2 separate regions of the Homo sapiens genome follow, and region 2 is linked to region 1. The links come from fine-mapping of genetic effects on gene expression. A gene starts in region 1. The other region holds a variant in brackets. All regions are shown on one strand. Distances are between the middles of the regions. Region 1 holds the start of KLHL42 (kelch like family member 42). Region 2 overlaps KLHL42 (kelch like family member 42).

Region 1 (8,336 bases):
AAATAAAAAATAAAAATTACCTAACTCTATTTGACCATTACGCTTCTGTAAAACTGTTTTACAGATAGTACCACAAAACTGGTTTTTATTATTCAATGATCAGTCAATAACAGATCTATAAAATTATACCTCCAGTTATATAAAGCAATATTTTCAGGAAGACTAGGAATAATTTTAGGTCTTTTTAAAATAAAGGAGTTTATATTGCTCTGACTTTGCATTTCTAGCTTAACAGAAAACTTACTGCATAATTTATTAAAATGATTTGATCATTTAAGATGCTCCCAATCCTAAATAATGTTATTATCATATTGGGAGCCAAAAAAACTCACAAGATCAATGCCCAGTATTGTGAGACTAATACCCCAGACTCCCTGTCCAACCTCATCTTACCCTGATAATGTTACTGTGCTTGAATTGCCTTTCTAATGCACATCATTCTTTGAGCATGATTTTTTTGGTCTGTTTTAAAAAGGCAAGAAAATACCAGTCTGAGGCATATCTATGACGGCTGGGAAACAAAAGCATCCATTGGTGAAAGATTCAAGAGACAGAGGAGAGACTGAGAGCCTGTTCTTTGTGGCTGACCCACTGAATCTGGCATTGTTGCCGGTTGAGGCATAGAAAAATCGTAGGTCCAAGTCTCTTTGATACAGGGGACGCATCCCAGCAAAATTCCCCAGCCTGATGCTTAATACTGGATGTTACACTCTACCATCCCAAAGAAGCTGCTAAATGCTTGATCACTCACTCCACCTCCTGCTCCAAAGCTTATCGTGTCTCACTGCACCCTCATAGAGAATGGAAGTGTGAAGGGTTGATGTGAAAATGGAGTTTTATCAGTAACGATTTAAAGGCCAGGTGAAACAAGGTGAAGAGATGAATGTTTTTTATAGAATCCAAGAAAACAACTGAGTAAGTCATAGATCCATTTTTATTTCCTTCATTTTTTTCCAGGGAGGCCAGAATCTACTAGAACATTTTCTATGTCTTTTATTTTTTAGTTCCTTATTCCTAGCATTATTATAAAGAAAATAGGCCAGGCACAGTAGTGCTTTGAGAGACCAAGGCAGCAGGATCACTTGGGGTGGCAGGATCCCTTGGGGCCAGGAGTTTGAGGTCTGTCTTGGGCAAGGTAGCAAGACCCTATCTCTATGGAAAAAAAAAATGCATTTTTTTTTGCTGGGCATGGAGGCTCATGCCTGTAATCCCAGCACTTTGGGAGGCCGAGGTGGGTGGATCACGTGAGGTCGGGAGTTCCAGACCAGCCTGACCAACATGGTGAAACCCCGTCTCTACTAAAAATACAAAATTAGCCGGGTGTGGTGGCTCATGCCTGGAATCCCAGCTACTCCGGAGGCTGAGGCAGGAGAATCACTTGAACCCGGGAGGTGGAGGTTGCAGAAAGCTGAGATCGCAGCATTGCACTCCAGCCTGGGCAACAAGAGGGAAACTCTGTCTCAAAAAAAAAAAAAAATGCATTTTTTTTTCTAAAAAATAAAAAGATAAACCTCCTTTCCCAAGTAATAATAATAAACAAAGTAAAAGATGACAACAACACCTCTCTGTGAAGCAGATAAATTTCGTAGTAAGAACCACAAATGTAACCAAACTATGTTGAAAGGATCTCATGTTTCACCTTTGACTTTCTTTTAGTTCTCTGGTTTTTAACCCTTTCTCCTTCCTAAGGTAAAATGTTAGCATGGTAGGATGTATCTTCTTTAAATAGGGGAAATGTACTTATGAAGAAGATATTATTTAACAATCTGTCATTCAAGAAGAAAGCTGAAGCTTGTAATAATAAAAAAAAAAACCAAACACATATTCTCTCCAAGTTAAGGACTGTTTATCATAGGTGGTTCTCAAATCTTGGTTTGGGGTAAGTTTTCAAGGTTTTCTGTTTTTGTTTTGTAAGATAAGAGTGAACACACCCTCTGCTTCCTCCCAATCCTTCTCCCTTCTCCTACCCAAAGATAATCCAAACAATATATTTCTCCCCCCACCCCCTTCCTGGGATGAATTCATTAGCAAGACAAAAAGTCCTTCCTATTATTATTTGGGGTGGGCCTTCTAATTGCAATGTTCAGTGAGAGAACATAGGAAACAAGTGGTCTCTCTTTTCCGAGACGGCGTCTCGCTCTGTCGCCCAGGCTGGAGTGCAGTGGCGCGATCTCGGCTCACTGCAACCTCCGCCTCCCGGGTTCCAGCAATTCTCCTGCCTCAGCCTCCCGAGTAGCTGGGATCACAGGCGCGTGCCACCACGCCCGGCTAATTTTTGTATTTTTAGTAGAGACGGGGTTTCACCATGTTGGCCATGGTGCTCTCGAACTCCTGACCTCGTGATCTGCCCACCTGGGCTTCCCAAAGTCATGGGATTACAGGCGTGAGCCACCGCGCTCAGCCAAACCGCACGTGTGGTCTCTCTTAATAGTCCTCAGATGATGGGGGCAGGGTAGGTGGAGAAAGGGGGTGACAAGAAAAGCTACTTCTTGCAGACATTTATGAGCCAATTTTGTCAGATCTTTTGCGCCAGGATAACATTCCGTAATGGACTGGACTGAAGTAGAAAAGCAATGGCTCATAGAAAACATGGTTTAAAACCAGAAGCCACGTGATGTAACTTTATTTAGTCGGGCTGCGCTTTCATCTTTCTTTTAATAACTTAGGGAGAATAAGGGGCCCCAGTGGCAAATGCAAGCTCCCCTGCCTCCCAACCCGATTCCTCTGAGAACCTGCTGCCATCTGCCTGGACCTCCTGTAAGATGGCTCCTACGCGACCACGCTACCAGAGAATCAGCTCTACGTGCCACCAACATTGCCACCAACTGTCCATAGATCGCCTGCGTGCCTCAGCCCACTGACACTCGATGCCGGACTGGGCCAGAAGGACGACCCCATATTTGATGCCTTTTTGTCTCCCTGGACCAGAGACTCCATCCTTCCCTTTCCTCCCACGCTCATTTCTTTTTCTTTAGCCCGTGTAAAGCAGCGTGGGAGAGAAAACGAATTTCTTCTCCCTGGGGTACCCCGGAGCATCACTGCAGCCCCCAACAAGCGGCGGAGCCGGCGCGCCCCGGGCGGGCGGAGAGGCTGCGGGGACGCGCGCCCTCCGCCTCCCGCAGCTGCGCGTCCGCAGCCGAGGCGCCCGGGCCCGCAGCTTCCCGGGCCTCCCCGAGAGCCGGATCCAGCCGGCAGGTCAGGCCGGCGGCTGGGGTCCCGCGGGCGGAAGTGAGAAGGGCGGCGGGGGAGGAGGCTGCTGGCTGGGAGCTGGAATTCCCTTCCCGCCTGGCGCCGCCCGGGAGAGCCCGCGCGAGGACGCCCGCCGCGCTCCGCCGGCCCTTTTTTGGCGCTGAGGGAAAGGAGAAGGGCAGGGCCGCCGCCTCGCGGGAGCGGGCCCCGGGAGGAGGGGCCGCCGGAGAGGCCGGGCGAGCGCGGGCGGCCCTCACCTCGCCGCTCCTCCCGGGCCGCCATCCCTCGGCGCCCCGCCCGGAACCGGCGCGCGCGTAGGGGCTGGGAGGCCGGCGCGCAGATCTGGCGGTGAGCGCTGCCGCCCCGGGGCCCCCAGCCATGTCGGCCGAGGAGATGGTGCAGATCCGCCTGGAGGACCGCTGCTACCCGGTGAGCAAGAGGAAGCTCATCGAGCAGAGCGACTACTTCCGCGCCCTCTACCGCTCCGGCATGCGCGAGGCCCTGAGCCAGGAGGCCGGCGGCCCGGAGGTGCAGCAGCTGCGCGGCCTCAGCGCGCCGGGCCTGCGGCTGGTGCTGGACTTCATCAACGCCGGCGGGGCCCGCGAAGGCTGGCTCCTGGGCCCGCGCGGGGAAAAGGGCGGCGGGGTGGACGAGGACGAGGAGATGGATGAGGTGAGCCTGCTGTCCGAGCTGGTGGAGGCGGCCTCCTTCCTGCAGGTCACGTCCCTGCTGCAGCTGCTGCTGTCCCAGGTGCGGCTCAATAACTGCCTGGAGATGTACCGCCTGGCGCAGGTGTACGGGCTGCCCGACCTGCAGGAGGCCTGCCTGCGCTTCATGGTCGTCCACTTCCACGAGGTGCTGTGCAAGCCCCAGTTCCACCTCCTGGGGTCTCCTCCCCAAGCTCCAGGGGATGTCAGCCTGAAGCAGAGGCTGAGGGAGGCCCGGATGACTGGGACTCCTGTCCTCGTGGCCCTCGGGGACTTCCTGGGGGGACCCCTGGCCCCTCACCCCTACCAGGGGGAGCCCCCGTCCATGCTCAGGTACGAGGAGATGACTGAGCGTTGGTTCCCGCTGGCCAACAACCTTCCTCCCGACCTGGTCAATGTCAGGGGCTATGGGTCTGCCATCCTGGACAACTACCTCTTCATAGTGGGCGGGTACAGGATCACTAGCCAGGAGATCTCCGCTGCGCATTCCTACAACCCCAGCACCAACGAGTGGCTCCAGGTGGCCTCCATGAACCAGAAGAGGTAAGCACCCCGGCAGAGTGCTGCTGCCTTCTCATTCATTCACTTGTTCATTAGTTCATTACCCCAGTGTTTACTGAGCCAGTAAATAGGGGAGGGTGTGCTGTGGTGGAAATGACATCTTCAGGAATGTTGTTGGCCTTGGCGCTGGCAAAATTCCCAATGAACTAAGAAATTGCGAAGAGGACGTCCCCAGTGAGGTCAAGAAGTGGAGTGGTTTTTTGGCAGGTATTGTGCCTTTAGGTGAAACTGCTTTCTTTGCCTCTGTTCTTGTGAAAAAAGATGTTGTGGTTTCCTACAAGAATACTTTAAAAGAAAATTGCCCCTTAATTTTTAAAAAATTTGTCTTAGTTTTTAGGATTTGATCCTGATGATAATGATACACTGGACAGTAACCTGTAACACTGACTTTGGGGGATTTTTTTCTGATGTCAGTGACTGTGACAACAGAGTCTTCCACACTGTGATACCCATCATGATCAAGAGATAATCACTGGAAATGTATTAACGTTTGCAATAGGGGTTGCTTTTCTTATTTTTTATCCTCTCTTTTGCTTCCTTCCCTGGACAGCCATCGTCATGACCCACAGCTTGAGCCTGGAAGTGTTCAACTACAGAATTGGAATATTTTCATTTACGCAACCTTCTCCCCCTCCCATCCTGCAAATCTCTCCTGCCTCCAACAAGGGTGACTTGAAGAAAGGAAGAGGAGGAGCTTGAGGAGTGGGATGAGAGGGGAGAAGGGAAAGGAACCAGGGAAGGAATATCAAAACAAGAGCAAAGAGCATATACAGGAAGAGATGGTAGGAAATAAAGATGGTAGCGCCTAGGAGGCCTCAGCGTCATTCAGAAGCAGGGAAAAGAATCAATGTAACTCAAGAAAGGATGAAAATACCCTTTCTTCCCATCCACGTGTTTCCATCTCAATCCTCACAGGGTCCTGGTCCTGAAGTGTGGAGCAAGGAGTTGGGGAGCTCACAGCTGGGCAAAGAAAGTCTTAACAGTAACAGAGAATCCTTTATATATCTGTTTATTTGACTCGAGGGTCCTCCTCGGCCAGGGATTATTTGGGGGAAATAACTGGCTTTATTTCTCCTATAATATGAAATTCATTTTGAAAAGTATGCTTTTTCCCCTGATAATACATAGTTACAGAAAACTGGAAAATGGAAAAGAATGAAGAAGCAAAAAGATGATTATTCCTACCCGCTCTTCCTAGAGGCAGTAACCAGGTTGGCATATTTCCTGCCAGCCCATTTTTAATGCATTATTTACACCATTGAGATGATACCATATTTAAAATTTGGTATCAGAAGTGTTATTTTAAAACAAATTCTATGCACTGTAATTGAAACAACAAAGGAACATTGTGTGGCCATGGGTGGTGGTCTGATTAGGGGTGGGCGGCCCTGAGTTCTCTCACTCCTCTTGCATTCCTCTAGCTACACATCATTTGGTGCTCACCAGGCCATCCTTAGTGCCACAGTTCCTCACACTTCTTTCTTCCCTTCATACATCCTTGGTAGTCTTTGTCTTTTTTTCTAGGAAGGCCCTTTTCATCCCCTTAAAAAAAAAAAAAGCATTCAAGTAATGCATGAATGCATGATTCTTAGAAAAACTGCAAATTACACACAAAACTGTGGAGTAAAAAGAGTAAATGTCTGCCCTCAGGGTACAGAAAAAAAGTGTCAGTGTATCAACAGACTTTTGTTACCTTTAGATATTATAAATGTATAAACATTTATACTGTAAATTATATGTATACTTGTATAAATACAGTTAACCCTTAAACAATGTGGGGGCCAGGGACACCAAACCCTGCACAGTCAAAAATCCCCATATAACTTTTGACTCTCCCAAAAACTTAACTACTGAATAGCCTACTGTTTACCAGATGCCTTACCAATAACATAATCAATTAATACATTTTGTATATGTAGTATATACTTTATTCTAACAATAAAGTATGCTATAGAAAAGAAAATGTTATTAATAAACTAAGGAAGAGAAAATTAAGCGGAAGTGGATCATCCTTATCATCTTGACGCTGAGTAGGCTGAGGAGGAAAAGGAGGTAGAGGAAGGGTTGGTTTTGCAGTCTCGGGGTGGCAGAGGCAGAAGAAAATCTGAATGTAAGTGGACCCTCACAGTTCAAACCCGTGTTATTAAAGGATCAGCTGTATAAGTATATTGATAGTGGTTAACAATAGGGGAAAAGTGTTTATGTATATTAATGTGCACGGGGGTGTATCACCTTACACATTTTAAAAATTCTGAAATTGTCTAGGTTGTACTAATTATTATGGCACTTGATATTTCCATTTAACCATATCTGAGAGTTTTTTTTCTGTGTCAACAAATGTAGATCTACCTTATGCTTTTTTATTTTTTTATTTTTTTTGAGACGGAGTCTCGCTCTGTCGCCCAGGCTGGAGTGCAGTGGCGGGATCTCGGCTCACTGCAAGCTCCGCCTCCCGGGTTCACGCCATTCTCCTGCCTCAGCCTCCCGAGGAGCTGGGACTACAGGCGCCCGCTACCACACCCGGCTAATTTTTTTTTGTATTTTTAGTAGAGACGGGGTTTCACTGTGTTAGACAGGATGGTCTCGATCTCCTGACCTCGTGATCCGCCCGCCTCAGCCTCCCAAAGTGCTGGGATTACAGGCGTGAGCCACCGCGCCCGGCCTTACCTCACGCTTTTTAATGGCTGCGTGGCATTCCAGCCTATGGATGTACCATAATGTAATTAGCCCTTCCCTTATTTATGGACATTTAGGTCACTTCCATTTGCATTGGATGTTTCAATAAGCACTGCCATTGAACATCCTGGTAGATGCGTGCATGTATCTTAGTAGCCATATGTGAGTTAGTTTCATATGTCAAATTCGTGGAATCCCTGGATAGGTAGGGCAAAGTGTATGTGTTTTTTTTTTTTGTTTTTGTTTTTTTTTTTTGGGGACGGAGTCTCGTTCTGTTGCCCAGGCTGGAGTACAGTGACGCGATCTCGGCTCACTGCAAGCTCCGCCTCCCAGGTTACGCCATTCTCCTGCCTCAGTTTCCCGAGTAGCTGGGACTACAGGTGCCCGCCACCACGCCTGGCTAATTTTTTTTTTTTTTGTATTTTTAGTAGAGAAGGGGTTTCACCTTGTTAGCCAGCATGGTCTCGATCTCCTGACCTCGTGATCCGCCCACCTAGGCTTCCCAAAGTGCTGGGATTAAGTTGTGAGCCACCGCGCCCAGCTGTGTATGCATGTTTTAAATTTTGTTGAAGCTGGGTGCAATGGTTCACGCTTGTAGTCCCAGCTACTTGGGAGGCTTAGGCAGGAGGATCACTTGAGCCCAGGAACTGAAGGCTGCAGTGCACTCTCATCGGGCCCGTGAATAGCCATTGCACTCCAGCCTGAGCAACATAGTGAGACCTCATCTCTATAAACAGTTAAAAATAAATAAATAAATAGATTTTGGTTGCTCCCGCCAAATTGCCCATCAAAAAAATTGTTCTGATTTCCTCTTCCATCAAAAGTGTTTGTGCTTGCCAGTTCCCTATACTCTTGCCAAGATAGAATATTATCATCTTTTTTTCCCCAAACCTAATGGGCAAAAACACTAGTGTGATTTTTCCCAATTAGAAGAGAGATTATTCTTTTTATATGTTGGTTGGCCATTTGTATTTCTTTTGTAAATGGTCTTTGCCAGTTTCCTAAAAATTGGCTTATTTTCTTCACATTCATTTGAGAAGTTCTATGTGTGAATACAGATATTAATCTCTTGTCTGTTATGTAATGTCGTGCATGTTTTCCCATGCTGTTATTTTTTCTGCAGTGTTCAAAAATAAGATCCCAAAGTGACTGGGTAGGTGAAATTGTTGCATAGAGGGGTGGGTGGGAGTTATGATGAAGCTG
Region 2 (8,336 bases), 22 kb after region 1:
GGTCCCTTGACATATCATTAGCACCTTAAGTGAGAGGTTTTCTTTTTCTTATCAGTGTCCTTGACAAGCATTCATATTAACATATTCATTCTCTCTTCTCCATCACCCATACCCACACATACATCTAGTATGTTTAGGGTTCTGTGTTCAGATATTTTGTTTGCACACTACTTTTTAGGAAACTTATAATGATGGAGCCCTACAGTGAATCCTTACCAGTGTTCAGTCCTCCCCAAAACTTGCATAAAAATATTCTTAGCTATTTTTCCAGCCTTTTTTGCAGTTACAAATGCTGGATAAATAGACTGATAAAACCTCTTATTTTATTTATGTGGCAGGTTGCATATTTATGTGGACACATAGGTTGCACTGCTAGGCATTCTGTATTGTTTTAAAGAGGATATATTATTTAGAAAAATGGACATATGAATATTATTAAAAATTGAGTCTTAAATTTAAATGGGAAGGGAAGAAAACACCAAATAAGAAAAAAATTTGCCTTTAAGAGTTACTTTTGTTGAATGTATTTGACTTAGTTCTTATTTTAAGGCTAAAAAAACTTTGTCATATTTAAGTCGGCAGCTTTCTAATTTAATCTTAGCTTTGTAATTCATGTTTTGCTTTTGTGGACTAAGGTAAGGACAGCATTTAAATATTTGTGCTGGAGTGAGGGGAAGAAGCTGTTACAGAAGTGGAATGGTTTCTGGTGGTATTTCTGAAGTTAGGTAAAGTGCTTTACTTGCCTTGGTTGTTAATTGAAATAGAATTCAGCTCAAGCAGTTGTTTTCAGTGAGTGAGTTAACAATAAAAGCTTCTGCCAATCATAGATCAACATTCCTCAAAAATACATACACTCATACTTATGGAAATTTTATTTTGATTGAAAACACTCTGAAATTATCTGATATTTTGTAATGGCATCAGTTAAACTGTGAGCTGGATTCCATCTTTCTGCAGTAACAGCGGGCAGAACCATTTCAGTTAGCATGTGCCTCACTTTAAGAAAGTCCTGTAGGGGAAAAAAAAAACTGTCAGAGCGAATTCATGCATTCAACAAACACTTATGAGTGCCTGGAGTATGCCGTCCACTGTGCAGATGTAGGACAGGGGCTAATCACTTAGAGTTCTTCAGTTTATTAGAGGAGTGACTACAGGTTTTCTTTACAACCATGGCCTCTAGTATACTTAAAATAAGCGTCCAGTTATAAAAAGCCTATTTGCACAACTTTTTGGGAATACTTCTATTAACTAAAATGAGGTAAGCCATTATTTTGGACATAGAAACAGATCTTTGTATCTTGTCACCAAATAATCTTACCTCTAGTCTACTTACAACTTTGTAAGGGTTTCTAAGCTATGCCCATTTATTCCCAAATATTAAGCCCTTAAAAAAATAAAACCTCTGAACCAAAATCTTCCCAGGAATAGTACTTAATAGATTTTAATGTTAATTTATATTCATTGTAGAATTGAATTTCCAGTGACCTGTAATTTCATTACATATATTTTAAAATCTATTTATTTTAGATGGTGTTAACTTTTCGTTGCTGAAGAGCTTAACTTTTTAAAGGCTTTGTCCTATACATTTAGAAGATGAGTCAGTTGAATTAGTACTGGACAAACAGTTGGAGATTAGTTTGCAAATAAGCATATCATATCAAATACAATATTCCAGCCAACCAGTTAATTCTCTTCCTGGTTACATTCATTGGGTCTATTTGCCTAATGTTGACAATTAGATTCTTGGACCAAGTGAGGGTGTACTCTGATCCACAAAGCTCTTTTATAAACCAGGTTTGAGGTTGTGTGTGTGTGTGGGGGTGTGTGTGTGTGTGTGTGTGTATGTTTGCATATTATAGCTCTCTTTAAGACAGACATCTAAAAAGATTTTGGTTATTCTGGGCTGCCAGCAGTACGTGGGAAAGGTGGAATGTGCAATAGGAACAGATCTGTGCATTTTGTGACATCGTCCTTCCTGCTGTGCACATCAGCTGTGATGACATTTTGAGGGTAGTTTTAATTTAGCTCGGTTCTCTTGTTGGTGCCAGTATTACATTGAAGACTACCTATGATAGAGGCAATGTTGCTTTGAAAATCTCCCTTCAGGCGGAGGTTGCAGTGAGCCGAGATTGTGCCATTGCACTCCAGCCTGGGCGACAGTGCAAGACTCTGTCTCCAAAAAAAAAAAAAGAAAAAAGAAAATCCCCCTTCATCCCCCAGGACTGTCCTTTACTCTTTGATAGTATCCCTCTATTTTCTTCCCAATTCTCTAAATGCTTTATCATTTTTTCCTGAGATGCTTCTGAGGGATGCTGACCTCCCACTATGGGGAAAAGGGTTGCTTGGAGGACCTGGGGTGGCAGCCCCCCGACCAGAAGCACCCTATTTTATAGATAGCAGTCTGAATGGTAGAGAGTCCTGTGTGTGGGTTGTTAGAAGGTTGGTTCTTCCTGTTATTCTCTCTGGCTTTCCTTTCAACCCACTTATTTTCAGAGGCCTCTCCCCTTAGCATCCTTTAAAAGGTTTTCTGATGAATGTGTGAAAGAGTTGATTATTTCAACAGTATTGGTTAAGTCACAACGACGAAGTGCTGAGAAGGTTATGGGTACCAGGAAGAAACAAACAGAAGTCTTAAGATTAGAATGAGAACCAAAGAGAATTTAACCCTGCCATTTTTTTTTTTTTAACACCAAGATCCTAAGTAATTCCAAATGCCTTAGATATCAATGAAAGCTACACACCATTGAGATGGGCAAAATTCTTTCTCTACAAAGGGAGTAATCAAGTAAATACCTGTTCTCTTTCAATGGACTGTTGCCTATTGAGCATTGTGGATGATGTGTTTTCAGATTTCCAGGTGAAGTTCTGACCCTACCTGTTTGGCCAAAGACGTAAATTGAGAGGAAAGGCCTTGGTCTTCCTGATCAACCAGCATTTAACGAACAGTGGCTTAATGCAGATCACTCAAGAGGCAGCATAGCAATGTAAAAGGAATATAAGTAGGTGTTGGATGCCTTTTTCCTAGACCAGGAATGGGGAATATATAACACCTGTGCCACCGCTCTTTTAAGGAGGCATTATGAATGAGTGCAGCATTCCTGTCCTCTGTGCCAGGATTTGGTCTTAGAATCCATGTCAGATTGGTGCTTCCAGACATCTATTCCCAGTCCATCAGAGTGAAATGAAGGCTATTTGCCATCCCTGCCTTAGACAGAGGAGTGAAAGAATTAAGTGGGTAGACACCAACCAAAATGACTTTGAAAGCAGTGAGCTGATTGAGCTCCAGTTCTGTGGTTACCAGAAATACTGAGTGTCTGTCATGTGCAAGACAATGCTAAGAACAGAATACAGACATAAATAAGTCACGGCCCATGACCTTGAAGAGCTTACGGCCTTATAAAGAGGTTCACTGTAATTGTCTTCACCAGGGCGTCCTTCTCAAAGATGCCCACTTTTGTCTGGCACATTGGGGCTCGGTGGTCTGGTGGTCCCTTCGGTCTTGGCCCTGTCCGTCCTTTGTTTTTGTGATTTACTAACAATCATCACGAACCAGTTTTGTTTTTCTTTTAAATTTGAACATCACATCTTGTGTTTTAGTTTTTTGCTCTATGATTTTTTTCTCACTGCTTTTCAGTCTTCTCTGTACTTCATTTTTGTGAAAAAGTGAAAATCACATATAATCTTTATTTAAAAATGCTCACCAAGCACTGCAGACTTTGGAGTTAGGGATTCAGCAGCTTGTTCCAGTGAAAAGGAGGAGTGAAGCTGGGGAAGTTAGTATCTAAGAGGGGCAAGCTGATTGCATGTGCATTTATACCTATGCCTTTAAAACATTCCCATAAAAAGTATTAATAAAGAAATTTCCATTCCACACTAGTACTGATGAAAAGGTGGTTGATTTTGCCTTGTGATAATTATCAAAGGATAGTTTTTCATCCTTAGATTTTATTCACATGAGAGATTTTTTTTATTTTCTCTGTTGACTTAGGAACACATCATAAATTCACACCAACTGACACGTTGCTGACGTCTGTACTTGACATAACCATTTTTATTCATACAGGAAGCATTAAATATAAAAGATGGTCAGTTTTGAAGAGCAAAGGGTGCTGAAATGACTTGTACGGTTGGCTGGTGCTTTCTCAAATGGATTGCCATAGTTCATTACTAGTAAAGAAAAGGAAAATGTGATTTACGTTGTCATTTTTCCTATTAAAAAAAACCCTTAAGAATGGGGCACTTGAGCTGTCCCTGCAATGTTTTCATATCTAGTAGTCATTTTAGGGAAAGTGATAATCTGTAGAATGAATAGTTATGTTTTGATATGACTGATACTTTCTTTGTTAAAAGGTTGTATTAAGTCTTCAATTTCAAGT[C/G]TAGCTTAAAAGTGTAAACATTATGTGATTCATTTGAATACAAGAATGCCTATGAAATACCCACTATAACAGCATTCCTTTTGTGTTTAGAACTATAGAAGAAAATGTCTTCAAATAAAGTAGTTTTCAGTCACTTTTTGTTATCTAAGTTCTATGTATCAGTTACGTATGCAGGGCTGTGCCAGGACTGGGAGGAAATGGGTGAAGTGACTTGGGAGCCTGAGGTGGGAGGATTGCTTGGGGCCAGGAATTTGAGACCAGCCTGGGCAACAGTGAAATCCTGTCTCTACAAAAAATAGAAATAAAAGAAATTAGCCGATACAGTGGTGCATGCCTCTAGTCCCAGCTACTTGGGAGGCTGAGGCAGGAGGATTGCTTGGGCCCAGGAGTTTGGGGCTGCAGTGAGATCTGATTGCACCACTGCACTCCAGCCTGGGCAGACAGTGCAAGACCCCAACTCAAGAAAAATGAAATAAATGGACAACCATTTTCTACACACTCAGGACACACTGATGGAGGAGAAGGAGGATGGCTGACCTAGCAGAGCGACACCCAAATCTAACTGAGCACTTTTTTTTTTCCCAGGAATTATTCTAAGCATTTTTTATTTAAATTATTTAATCCTCACATGAATCCCATGTGGTAAATACAAATATCCTCCGCTTTACAGTTGAGGAAACTGAGGCACTGTAGGTTACAAATTGCCACTTGAGAAAGAGGAGAAGGGAAAACTACATACAGTGGTCACTGGTTTAAAGGGTATCCTTTCTCTTGCTAGTGGAGGAGTGGGTTTCCGAGTGAGCCAGTCTGGGAGCCTCTGGTCCTGCTTTGCAGCAGCGCGTTCCATGGCTGACCTGCCTGGGGGTGAAGTGGCAGCCTCTTCCTGTGGGCATGGTTACAGGAGGTGTGTGGAGGGGCACCTGAACACTTCTGTTGAGGCCAGGGATCCTAGGCTCCTGTTTGTAGGCCATCAACATTTCCTTGGCAATAAAACTTTAAAAACCCATTTGAGGCTGGGCACGGTGGCTCACACCTATAATCCCAGCACTTTGGGAGGCTGAGGTGGAAGGATTGCTTGAGCCCAGGAGTTCAAGGACAGCCTGGGCAATACAATGAGACCCTGTCTCTATTAAAAAAATAAATAAATAAAAACTCAGATGCTGGTAAATCTGATCTCCGGCAACTCCATAGGATAAAGGCCCAGATTTAGAGGAGCCCAGTTTCTTTAACTTAGAGCCCATCTTTATGATGTCTGTCTCTTAGCCACAGGCTTCCTGCCCATGCCTCCACCTTCAGTTTGATGGCGTCAATCTCTCTCTTAGCTTTGGGATAATCTGAAACCATAGGGGTCTGCCGTTCCCAGACTACATCCCAGGGACTGCAGCATTAGTAGAAATGATTACCTCTGTGTGGCAGGAGGTGTTTGGGGAATAAAATACCCACCCTATTTCCTCTTCTTCTTCTTCCTCTTTTTCTCCTTCTCCTCCTTTTCCTCCTCCTCCTTCTCTATTTTTGGAGACAGGGTCTTGCTCTGTCACCCAGGCTGGAGTGCAGTGGCACGATCTCAGCTCACTGCATCCTCGGCCACCTGGGCTCAAGTGATCTTCCCACCTCAGCCTCCTGAGTAGCTGGGACCACAGGCATGTGCCACCACACCCAGCTAATTAAAAATTTTTTTAAAAAAAATTTTTATAGAGATGCGGTCCCGCTATGTTGCTTAGGTTGGTCTCAGAAAACGATTCTCCCACCTCGGCCTCCCAAAGTGCTGCGATTTACAGATGTGAACCACTGCGCCAGGGCCCCCACTCTATTAGTTTGCCTCCTCCGGGAGCCCGATCTTACTATATTTCTGGCTGTTCATGCCCCTTTAACTAAGGCAGAGAACCTGGCTCCTATAGTTCTGCCAGGCACATGTTTGATCCTCTGCAGTCTGCTGCCTGTAGGCAAAAGGGTGAAAGGCATGGACTCTAGAGCAAGACTTTGCTTCCTAATTCTGCTACTGTCTTTCTTTTTTCTTTCTTTTTTTTTCCCGAGACGGAGTCTTGCTCTGTTGCCCAGGCTGGGGTGCAGTGGTGCGATCTCAGTTCACTGCAACCTCCGCCTCCTGGGTTCAAGTGATTCTCCTGCCTCAGCCTTCCAAGTAGCTAGGATTACAGGCGTGTGCCACCACGCCCATCTAATTTTTGTATTTTTAGTAGAGATGGGGTTTCACCATGTTGGCCAGGCTGATCTCGAACTGGCTAGTCTGAAACTCCTGACCTCGTGATCCACCCGCCTTGGCCTCCCAAAGTGCTGGGATTACAGGCGTGAGCCACTGCGCCTGGCAATTCTGCTACTTTCTAGCTGTAGCTTTGGTTAGGCTACTTTGTCTCCCCAGGCCTCAGTTTCTTTATCTGTAAAGTAGGGATAACAATAGTATCCACCCTGTGAAACTGTTGCAAAAAATTGTATGAGAAAATTCATGTGATGTGTTCAGAATGGCATCTGGCACATAACACACAATGAATGTGAGCTGTTGTTATTATTACCAAAGCTGTTTCCTTTATACCTTCAAATGGGCCAGCTTGGCTGGAAGCTTATGCCTTTCCTAAAATATCTTAGCAAAGCCATTAAGACGTAGCTAACAAATTCCAGATCCTGGTACAAGTCTTTCACTTCTCCTAAAGGAGCCAACTTGAGTGGTCTGAGGCCCAAGAGACAGCAGCATAATTAGTTGTTTGCTTTCCACATAAGGTCAGGGATGAGAAGATTCTATCTACCCCATCCCTTCCCTTGCTTTAGCTGGCTCCATATTTCAGCTTTAGATATTTGCAACATCCCATCCTAAGTACCAAACGCTTTATTAAGACTTGTTTGAACCAGCCCAGGTAATGTGTCCATTTCTGAGGTAACCACTGTGGCCAGGGGCATGGAGGAGAATCTCCAGTTCAACCACGTGGAATGAAGTCATCTCAGATAATAGGGGTCTGCTTACTAGAAGAAAGGGGTGTTGACTCTTGACTTGCAAAAGGAACAGCTAGATAACCTGTTGGTCAAGCAAAGCCAAGTTTGTTATGCTTACTGTGGTCAGGGAGGACACCACCTTGAAAAAGAATTAGTAGTGCCTCAGAAGGGGAATGTCAGGTTTTGGGGCCTGGGCTGGGTGATTTTGAAGTAGGTCTCAACACTGGGCAGAGTTTCTGATACAAGAACTTTGGGCATAGGACTTTGTGGGCACAATGCAGTGAGAGTCCCAAAGCTAATCTTGGGAGCTTGTTTGGAGGTTCCAGCAGGGGAGCGCAGCTACTCATACACCCTTGACCCAAGACTGGTCCTCCTCTATTGGGGATGGTTGTCCTCTTCGACTGAGCGTGGAGTTTCGGGAGGGACGCACATGGAGCAGTGAGGGAGGAAGGGGTCACCCATCTAGCCAGCCAGATCAGTCGAATCAACCCTGGCGATCAGTGGGGTGAGAGTTGTCACAGGCAGATCACCCTCACATCCCCTAAGCTAGCCTTGATGGGGAAGCTGTTAGTCTTGGTAAGTGAGCTAGCTGGTTGGTTTACAGTGTTATGGAAGATAAGCCTTCTGAAAATACTTGTTCCTGGATACAGCTTCAGCTATCTCTCTCTCAGGGCACACATATTTGTCTCATAGAACAGTTCTTATGTGCTTGTCTTATTCCTCTTCTAGACTGTAGTTTCCTTGATGATAGAGTGTTTCATTAATCTTTTTATCACTCTATGTCAGGACATACACCAGAGCCATGTAACACAGCAGATTCTGGAAGTATTTGTTAAATTGGAAAGGTTTTGAAGCCTCCTTGGGTTTTCTGAAAATATATAGGTTTCTGGTTTATGTAGCCCTAAAATTTCCTTATAGGAAAAAAGTGTTTTCTTGAGGAACAACGGTTATTAGGAAAACAGTGTACTTTTCTCTTCTACCAACGTACATAATGCGTCACGCAGATGGGAGAAGTTT

The links.
Region 2: its variant is fine-mapped to the expression of KLHL42 in fibroblasts (GTEx, PIP 0.98).

The regions. Positions count from the first base shown.
Region 1 is chr12:27,776,764-27,785,099 of GRCh38, forward strand. It overlaps KLHL42 (kelch like family member 42), which reads left to right and starts at 3,470. Exons shown (of 3, transcript NM_020782.2): 1 at 3,470-4,439. The coding sequence starts at 3,568. It overlaps MANSC4 (MANSC domain containing 4), which reads right to left and starts at 3,473. Exons shown (of 4, transcript NM_001146221.5): 1 at 3,447-3,473. RefSeq lists silencers at 439-639, 3,072-3,291, 3,312-3,621 and an enhancer at 3,487-3,986.
Region 2 is chr12:27,798,532-27,806,867 of GRCh38, forward strand. KLHL42 (kelch like family member 42) reads left to right here. Exons shown (of 3, transcript NM_020782.2): 3 at 1-4,509. It also overlaps the pseudogene RN7SKP15. Among named protein-coding and RNA genes, the nearest start is that of MANSC4, 22 kb to the left of the region's middle. RefSeq lists an enhancer at 6,384-6,553. The variant C/G (reference allele first, on the strand shown) is at 4,377.